Linked DNA regions of Homo sapiens. The protein of the gene in region 1 purifies or fractionates together with the protein of each later gene. This does not show direct contact. Each region holds a gene or a part of one and is shown on either strand. Other genes may lie near its edges.

Region 1 (5,462 bases):
GGGAGGAGGTTAGCAGGGAAGATACTGGATGAGTGAACTTGAGGAGTTTGTGAAACATCAAAGCAAATTGTCAGATTACTTTCTGTGAAGTCCCTGAGGCAAAATGTAGGCTCACCTTTCAGTCAGCTATATAGTTACTAAATATCTCTTGATTCTAGCCTCCTAACCCATCCCCACATCTCCAAGTCCTCATCTCTTTTTATTAATCTCCTTATTTTCTGTCTAGCCCTACCTCATTCTATTTATAATGCAAATCTGATCAAATCATTTCCCCACTTAGAACATTCTTGGAATGCACTGTCCCATACAGTCGCCACTAGCCACATGTGGTTAGTCTAGATTGAGAGGTGCTGCAGGTGTAAAATACACATAGAATTTTGAAGATTTAATATTTTTTAAATGCAGAATATTTCATCAATAATTTTTTATTGATTACATGATTAAATATTTTCTTAAAATTAATTTATCTGTCTTCCTTTTAAAAACATGGCTCCAGCTGGTTGCAGTGGTTCACACCTGTAATCCCAGCACTTTGGGAGGCCAAGGCAGGTGGATCACGAAGTCAAGAGATTGAGACCATTCTGGACAACATGGTGAAACCCCATCTCTACTAAAAACACAAAAATTAGCTGGGTGTGGTGGCACACACCTGTAGTCCCAGCTACTGGGGAGGCTGAGACAGGAGAATTGCTTGAACCCAGGAGGCAGAGGTTGCAGTGAGCTCAGACTGCACCACTGCACTCCAGCCTGGCAACAGAGTGAGACTCTCTCTCTCTCTCTCTCTCTCTCTCTCTCTCTCTCTCTCTCTCTCTCTCTCTCTCTCTCTCTCTCTCTATATATATATATATATATATATATATATATATATATAACACCTAGAAAATTTAAAATTCAGTTTGAGCCTTGCCTTTTCTCTCTACTGGTTAGTGCTGTGCTATAGTATGTCACTGCCAGGATAAAGTCCAAAATCTTTACATGGAATATAGAGTTCTTCATGGTCCCGTCCACTTTGTTGCTTACTCTATGTGCCAAATCAAATGCGTTTTCCCATATTCTCTCTCTCACCCCAGTCTCTGTGTGTTATTCTCCTGGTCCCATTAACTTGCTCTGCCTGATGATATCCTCCTAATCTTCAAGAATTTTAACATTATTAATATTAATATTAAGAATATTCAGGGCAGGCATGGTGGCTCACACCTGTGATCCCAGCACTTTGGGAGGCAGAAGAGGGTGGACTGCTTGAGGCCAGGAGTTCAAGACCAGCCTGGTCAACATGGCAAAATCCCATCTCTACTAAAAATACAAAAATGAGCCAGGTGTGGTGGTACATGCCTATAGTCCCAGCTATTCAAGAGGCTGAGGCATGAGAATCACTTGAATCCAGGAGGCAGAGGTTGCAGTGAGCCAAGATTGCACCACTGCACTCCAGCCTGGGTGACAGAGGGGGACTCTGTCTCAAAAAAAAAAAAAAAAGAATGTTCACCAAGAATATTCATGTTATCCTCCTGGTCCTATTGACTTGCTCTGTCTGAAGAAATTATCTTATTCTTCAAGAATATTATATTAGTAACATTAATAATATTCACCAACAGTATTTACTTATTTTTCCAAGCAAAGGTTCCTCCTCTATGTTCTCATGATATCAGTTATAATTACACTTACATATCAGTTATATTTTACTTCTACATCTCCATCACTAAACTATGAGGCCATAAAATGTGATCTTTAATCCCCAGCATTCACTGTGGCACAGTGCCTAACCTGTAGAGAGTGTTTAACAAATGTTTGCTGAATGAATGCGTCTATCTAGAAAACTGTTGAGGGATGAGCAAATCTTTATAGATCTTCATAAATGCACCATTACAAAAATATTAATATTTTTTTTTTTTTGAGACGGAGTCTCGCTCTGTCACCCAGGCTGGAGTGCAGTGGCACGATCTCTGCTCACAGCAAGCTCGGCCTCCCGGGTTCACACCATTCTCCTGTCTCAGCCTCCCGAGTAGCTGGGACTACAGGCACCCGCCACCACGCCCAGCTAATTTTTGTATTTTTTTTTTTTTTAGTAGAGATGGGGTTTCATTGTGTTAGCCAGGATGGTCTCAATCTCCTGACCTTGTGATCTGCCCGCCTTGGCAGTCAGTAACCTGTAATGCACCGAAGACTGAACTATGTTTAAACAAAATCCAGGTTAAATATTTAAAGAATTGTTTTCATACTTACAGATTTCCCTTCTGCCCAAATGACTGCCCCAACTCCTGTTTTATGATCCTCTGAAAGATATATGGCATTTAACTCAGTAAAAATTATGATATGTTAGTTTTAGAAATATATTTTTCCAAAAGTAATAAAAACTTGTATTGAAACATACTTCATAAATGTAGCAGCAATCCTTGTATCTTCACTAATTACAGAAAAGTATTAAAATAAACACTTTTAAGTATGGAATATGGGAGCTAGGTACCAAATAACTAGAGAGAGTCACTACCAACTCAGTCACACATACGTATGTGGAGGCCACTAAATGGCAGTGTCCACAGTCAGGTCCCTCAAAGCTGTAGCCAGAACTAAGTGCAACTTCATTGATTCTCCATTAACAAGCCGGTTTCTAAACAACTACTTCTGATAGGTGATAAAATTTAATAAAGGTTTCAGAACTAATGGATTTTGTGTAATAACTGTTCACAACAACCAAATTTGTCTTTTCCCAGCATTATTTATACTCTAATCATGGAAAATATATCTTATGAAAATGTTCTTGCTAAGAAAAAAGTTCAAACTTCTCATACGAACATAAACAAATCTTTATGGATCTATCTATCTATTGCTAGAAAGTACATGAAGAGAATTCTGATTTAAACAAAATGTTGTCCTTTCTTTGACCTTCAGTTTACCTTGAGGGAAAAAGAATGCAAGTTAATGACATCTTGCCCATTTCTAAATCAAATAGCAGAAGTTATAAACAAACATAAGATTATAATTTCCCTGTAGAACCAAAACCTTTGCAAAAGTAAAGCTGTACTTCTTAAAACCATTAATCTGAAACAGAAAATTAAAAAACAAAATAGAAATTCTACATATTAAGGATTTACTTTTTCCTTCTATACAATGTTGAGTTTCAAATTTCTAAGACAAATTACACTAATTATGAAAACCATAGTATTTATCAAAATCTTAATAAGGGACTAAGGTAGTTAAGTGGCACATTTACACGTAGAAAATAACAATTATCTGTGAACTTACCCTAAGGCATTTTCATTTTGGGGAGGATTAACTGAAACCGTGGTTTCACCCTACAATTTCCTAAAAGTGAATCCCTCCAATGATAACATTTTTAAATACCTACTTTCCAGTAAAGGTACAAAGAAAATTTGTGCCACAATTGCATTAAAAACTAGAATGAATGTCTTATTAAGAGGTTAACTTTAAAACAGTTATGATACTCTAATAAAATTTCCCATCTCAAATTCAAGCAAACCCTGGTTTTCAAAATTATACCACAAAGCATTTGTATAATTTATGTTAAACATGTTTATTCATGATCTCATTTTTACCCTAAAGGTAAAGCAGATAAAATTTCCATTTCTAGATGCAGAAACAGGCAAAGAAATAGACTAAAACTTAGCCCTCCAGATCCAACCTGCTTGGCCTTTCCTCCACCTTGCACCGTGACATAAAGAATTCCTTGACACAGCCTGGCCAACATGGTGAAACCCCGTCTCTACTAAAAATACAAAAATTAGCCAGGTGTGGTGGTGCATGCCTGTAATCCCAGCTACCTGGGAGGCTGAGGCAGGAGAATTGCTTAAACCTGGGAGGCGGAGGTTGCAGTGAGTTGAGATCGTACCACTTCACTCCAGCCTGGGGGACAGAGCAGAACTCCATCTCAAAAAAAAAAAAAAAAAAGAAAAAGAAATCCTTGACAAAAATTTCCATTTATTGAATGCCTCTTATGTTCCAAGTACTGTGAGAACTGAGGATGCAGTGGTGAGGGAAACTGTAGTCCCTTCCTCATACGACTTACAGTTGGATGGTGAAGGAGAACAGCAACAAGGAAACAAACAGTACTTTATGTGCTGTGCTCTGAAGGAAATAAATGAGGCTGAACAGCAGAGTGCACGAGATGACTTCCTTCTACAGAGTAGAGGGAAAAGGGATTTTGGTGTAAACAAAATTGGGTTCCTTCCTAGACCTTTAGAGTTTAACATGAGTGGGCAAGAATACAAATCAATGGCTTTATGCTCATTTCTAAGGTAAGTGGCAGAAGTTATAAACATAAGATTATATTTGCCTGCAAAACCAAAATCTTTAAAGTTTTATTTAATTTATGCATAAATCTAAAATGAAAAAATAAAAAACCAGAATAAAAATTCTCCATATTAAAAGCCCCCTTTTCTACCATCAACACTGCATATTTTTAATGTTATGTTTCTTAGTCACAGAAGCCACTTTTTCTGTTTCAGCCTGGGGACAGACTAAACCTTGTTAGGAGGAAAAAAAAAATGTGATTTTTCCATCAGCATGCAGCTCTGCTGCCTAGCTAAGGTTGGTTACATCAAGAGAATATTCTTTACTACTTGTCTTTTAAAATAGGAATAAATTTTCATCCATATAAAACAGATTTGATGTCACTCAGCATCAAGGCTGGTGACAGATGAGGTAATTTCTCAAAAATCTTTTCATGTCTATAATTTTTACAGAAATTGCTCCCTATGATCTGGTCATTCACAGGGTTTTCTCTGTACAACTTTGAAGGAAAGGTCAACTTACAATCATTGAGTCAAATTCCTGGGGCTCTTTGATCACTGAAAATCAGAGGGGAACTTTTTGTTCTAGAACACAGGTGTGGTTATTTTAGCTCCCAATCCTGTGGTCATGTCAGTGTCCAAGGTGCTCCACAGTCCTCTTGCATCAAAATTACTGGATGCTTGTTTTTAAAATTTAAAAAAAAAAAAAAAGAGGCAACTCCTGGCTTCCATGGAAGTCCCCTAAATCAACCTCTCTGAGAGAGGCAGGCAAGGCTTAGGAATCTGCATTACTCCTGAGCTCCCCCTTGATTCTCAGGCATACTCATATCTGAGAACCACTGAGTTCTGTTTTAAAAGTTAACTTTCTTGATTACTCCAGCCTACTCTCATTATCAGTACTGTGGCCCAGGAGGAAGGCATAATCCTTAGCTTTGGAAAACACCTAATCTGATGAGAAAGCAAGACACGAAGAGATCACAACTCAGTACTTAAAGCAGATAGATAAGATTTTTGATGCCTTCCTCCTGCTCTTTTTTCCCCAAGAGTCTAAACACTTTTTTTTTCCACTTTTTTGCTACCTTCGGGTATTCTAGAAACATACTTTTGGAACTCCTGGCCTCAAGCAGTCCTCCTGCCTCAGTCTCCCAGTGCTGGTATTACAGGCGGGAGCCACCGCACCTGGCTAGTAACATACTTTTCATGACATCTCTATGGATC
Region 2 (3,674 bases), on another chromosome or scaffold:
GTAAAATCCAATTTATCTCAACTAGTAGAATTTTCAGCACAGGTCTACAATCCCTTACGTAAAACCTTTGGAAAGCCAAATGTTTCAGAATTCAGAAATGTTTAGATTTCACGACAGTAATATGATACGGTATATACAGGATATACCATGCAACACTCTCAGCAGGTTCTGAGGCAGCACTAATAAAAATAGCAATTCTGCAGCAAAACATAAATATTTATAGGAAGCAGGCAAAGAATAAAAAAAAGTATTGGCATAAGTCAGGTTTTGCCACCAAATGAGTTTTTCACAAACTTATAATATTTCAGAGCCTTTTGGATTTCACAATAGTGATTACAGACCTGTACTATTAAGGAGATATTTTGGTGAAAAGGTTTTCTTCCTAAATAAAATCATTCAATTTATTCTATCAGGGAATAGTGAGGAATGTAAGGCCTTAGAAAACACTTTCTCCATTCTCATTCTTACTACTTAATCTTGACCACCTCATTTTCTTAGTTTGGTTTGTTCTAACTTTTTTGGATTTTCCTTTCAAATCTCTAAAGTAAAAGATGCCAACTATAAGTCAAATGACACAATGGTAGTCAGAACAAAAGATAACAAATCCCTCCACAAACCCCGAATCTTCCTCACCTTTGCCCCTCCAACCTTTTAGGCTGGAATCTTTTAGGCTGCCTTGTCTAATGAAGGCAGGGTAACTTCTACTGCTAAGTATCCAGGGTCTCAATATTCACTTTCTCAGCTTAAAAACACATGGCAAAAATTTTTGTAGATATAGATCCTGATTCAGATCTGAGGCACAGAGATCAGATAACTCTATTGTTTAAAGGTCTTCAGCCTGATTCTAATGCTCACCAAAGTTTGAGAATTATAGTCCTTAAGGTAGGCCTACCTGCTGAACTCAACCCCAACACTTCTGGGCCAGGGATGCTCTCCAGCAGAGAAACAAAAACGCCCAGCGCCTAGATTACAGAACTACATCTACTAAATAAGGAAAAATAACAGGGACAAAAACTAAAAGAAAATTCCTAACTGGAATTTTGCTTCCTAATCAAATTTTGGAAGGATGGGAAGAGAGGTGGCCATAAAATATGTTAAATAGTTGCACAGTTGTGCTTCTATTCAAAATAGGTAGAAAAACTGCAATGCTGAAAACACATCTACAAATAATTATGAATTAAGTATGGACTAAAATTTAATTTGGAGACAATTTCAACATTATCAAAAAGTTAATTCAAAGGCGAGTCTAATATTTCATCATCCTCCTAGAGGATCATCTATTCAGTCTGATTTTTTTAAAGCTAATTTTATTGTTAGCATTGATAGCTAACAAATAATTAAGCTTAAGTACTGCTAAAGCAAAATAAAATTTCATACCAATATATGCTTCCAGTTGTGCCTTTCATCTATATATTCATATGAACACAATTATGACAAATTATCTTACAGGACATCCTACACAACAGATTTAATAAACAATCCAGTTTTGTAGTCAATTCTAGAAAAACCAAAATAGTTTGAAATAAGCAAGTTATTTTACCTTTTTCTTTAGCATGAATGTCATCACATATGTGTAGATCTAGATGAGAAATCACTAAATGATGGGAGGTTTCCTTAACATCAAAATCATTGAATAGTTTCACAATTGCATCATTTACATCAGGAGCATTTGAAGTTTGCGTTGTCTTCACTTGCTGGGCAGATGCGACTACTGTAGAGCTCTAAAAAGATTCGAAACTGCCTTATCACTGCCAATTTAAATACTGGAAATTTCACACAAAAATCTAAGTATTTTCAGTCGAAAGTCATGAAAAATAACCATAGTACATCTTATTTTTCATCAATAATATATTTTCCCTAAAATATTTTCTGAATTACCTAAGAATAAAACTAAAATTTAAAAACGGTAAAACTAGGCTCATGCCTGTAATCACAACACTTTGGGAGGCCGAGGCAGGCGAATCATCTGAGGTCAGGAGTTCAAGACCAGCCTCGCTAACATGCTGAAACCCCATTTCTACTAAAAATATAAAAAATTAGCTGGGCGTGGTGCCGCATGCCTGTAATCCCAGCTACTTGGGAGGCTGAGGCAGGAGAATCACTTGAACCCGGGAGACAGAGGCTGCAGTGAGCTGAGACCGTGCCACTGCACTCCAGCCTGGGTAACAGAGCGAGACTCCATCTCAAAAAAACAAAAACAAAAACAAAAAAACAAACAAAAAAACTGTAAAACTATACACAAATCAAATATGAACCCAATATATCTCAGTAAATATCTGAAGTTATATTTAACATATTTATAGCCCTTGTTTTAGAAAATGTAGTTAACTCTTAAAGGCAGTTTATTTGAATATTATATATATTAAAAACAAAACAAATGTGGGCCCTGTATACACTGTTATATATCTGATATGGTTTGGCCCTGTGTCCCCACCCAAATCTCATCTTGAATGGTAGTCCCACAATTCCCACGTGTTGTGGGAGAGACCTGGTGGGAGATAATTCAATCATGGGGGTGGCTTCCCCCATACTGTTCTGGTGGTAGTAAATAAGTCTCACGAGATCTGATGGTTTATCAGGGGTTTCTGCTTTTGCAGCTTCCTCATTGTTTCTTTGACTGCTGCCATCCATGTAAAATGGGACTTGATCCTCCTTGCCTTTCACCACGATTACGAGGCTTCCCCAGCCACATGGAACTGTAAGTAGATTGCCCTGTCTCGGGTATGTCTTTATCAGCAGCGTGAAAAGGGACTAATATGATATCCTATAGAAATAAAGCACATCTTTGTAGAAGCCCCTGTGATATTATTTAGTACTCTAAGTGCTCTGGTGCCTCTCCTAAAAGATGTGGTATGTCCTTTGAACTTGAATAACTAAAGAAGCCAGAAAGGAGACAGGATTTATAAATAGGTTGTGAGTTCAAATATTTTTCTCCCTGAAGAGAAATAGTATAGAACCCTGTTGATATATAAAAATAAATATGAACCTCTAATAGCCTAAAATTATTTTGTATACATAACTATAATGTAAGATTATCTGACATATGAGCCACAAAACTGTAGATGAATTTTTATAATAATTATAAGACCAAATTTTCCACTTTAAAAATTAACAATGTTCAAATTTAGAACAAGTTATTAACTAAAGATAATTAAAGAAAATCAAAGTATATGTATTTTGCATGTATATATATTTACACATATTACATCTATGAAGAACTATGATCATACTGTAAAAGAACTGCAAAGTATACTTAGTAAATGAGAATCTCTTCATGAAAATGATTGCAGCCCAAGGTAAGTAAAGAAACAAAGTGAAATATAGCTGTAAAACGTTAAATACTATAGACTCCAGAAAACTTTTTATTAATTAATTGTTAAACTGATATCAAACACTTTTTCTCCTGCTTTTCCCATTTTCAAAGCTATAACAAGACTGTATTTATGTCTATGATGGTGCTATTTAAAATACTCTCCGGTACTTCTTTCATTATGTTTTCTCTCTTATCAAGATAAATACTGATAAAAATAAAAATATAAACATTTATCTACCTACAAACCTTTTTCTTAATACTATGGTAAAGTCAGGTTTTGGGATGCTATTTCTGGAAGAAAAAAAATGGGCCACTATAAGCTCTCTGCCTCATGAATAATCCTTTTTTTTTTTTTTTGAGG

The links. The genes of interacting proteins can lie anywhere in the genome.
Region 2: the proteins of CDADC1 (region 1) and BLTP3B purify together in Homo sapiens (affinity purification with mass spectrometry, with the first as the bait; one large-scale study listed by BioGRID). This does not show direct contact.

The regions. Positions count from the first base shown.
Region 1 is NC_000013.11:49,271,099-49,276,560, reverse strand, and holds part of CDADC1 (cytidine and dCMP deaminase domain-containing protein 1), read right to left. Parts: intron 2,271-5,462; coding exon 2,221-2,270; intron 1-2,220. UniProt on the Homo sapiens protein: Catalyzes the deamination of cytidine and deoxycytidine into uridine and deoxyuridine, respectively. May play an important role in testicular development and spermatogenesis.
Region 2 is NC_000012.12:100,087,375-100,091,048, forward strand, and holds part of BLTP3B (bridge-like lipid transfer protein family member 3B), read right to left. Parts: intron 1,722-3,674; coding exon 1,541-1,721; intron 1-1,540. UniProt on the Homo sapiens protein: Tube-forming lipid transport protein which mediates the transfer of lipids between membranes at organelle contact sites. Required for retrograde traffic of vesicle clusters in the early endocytic pathway to the Golgi complex.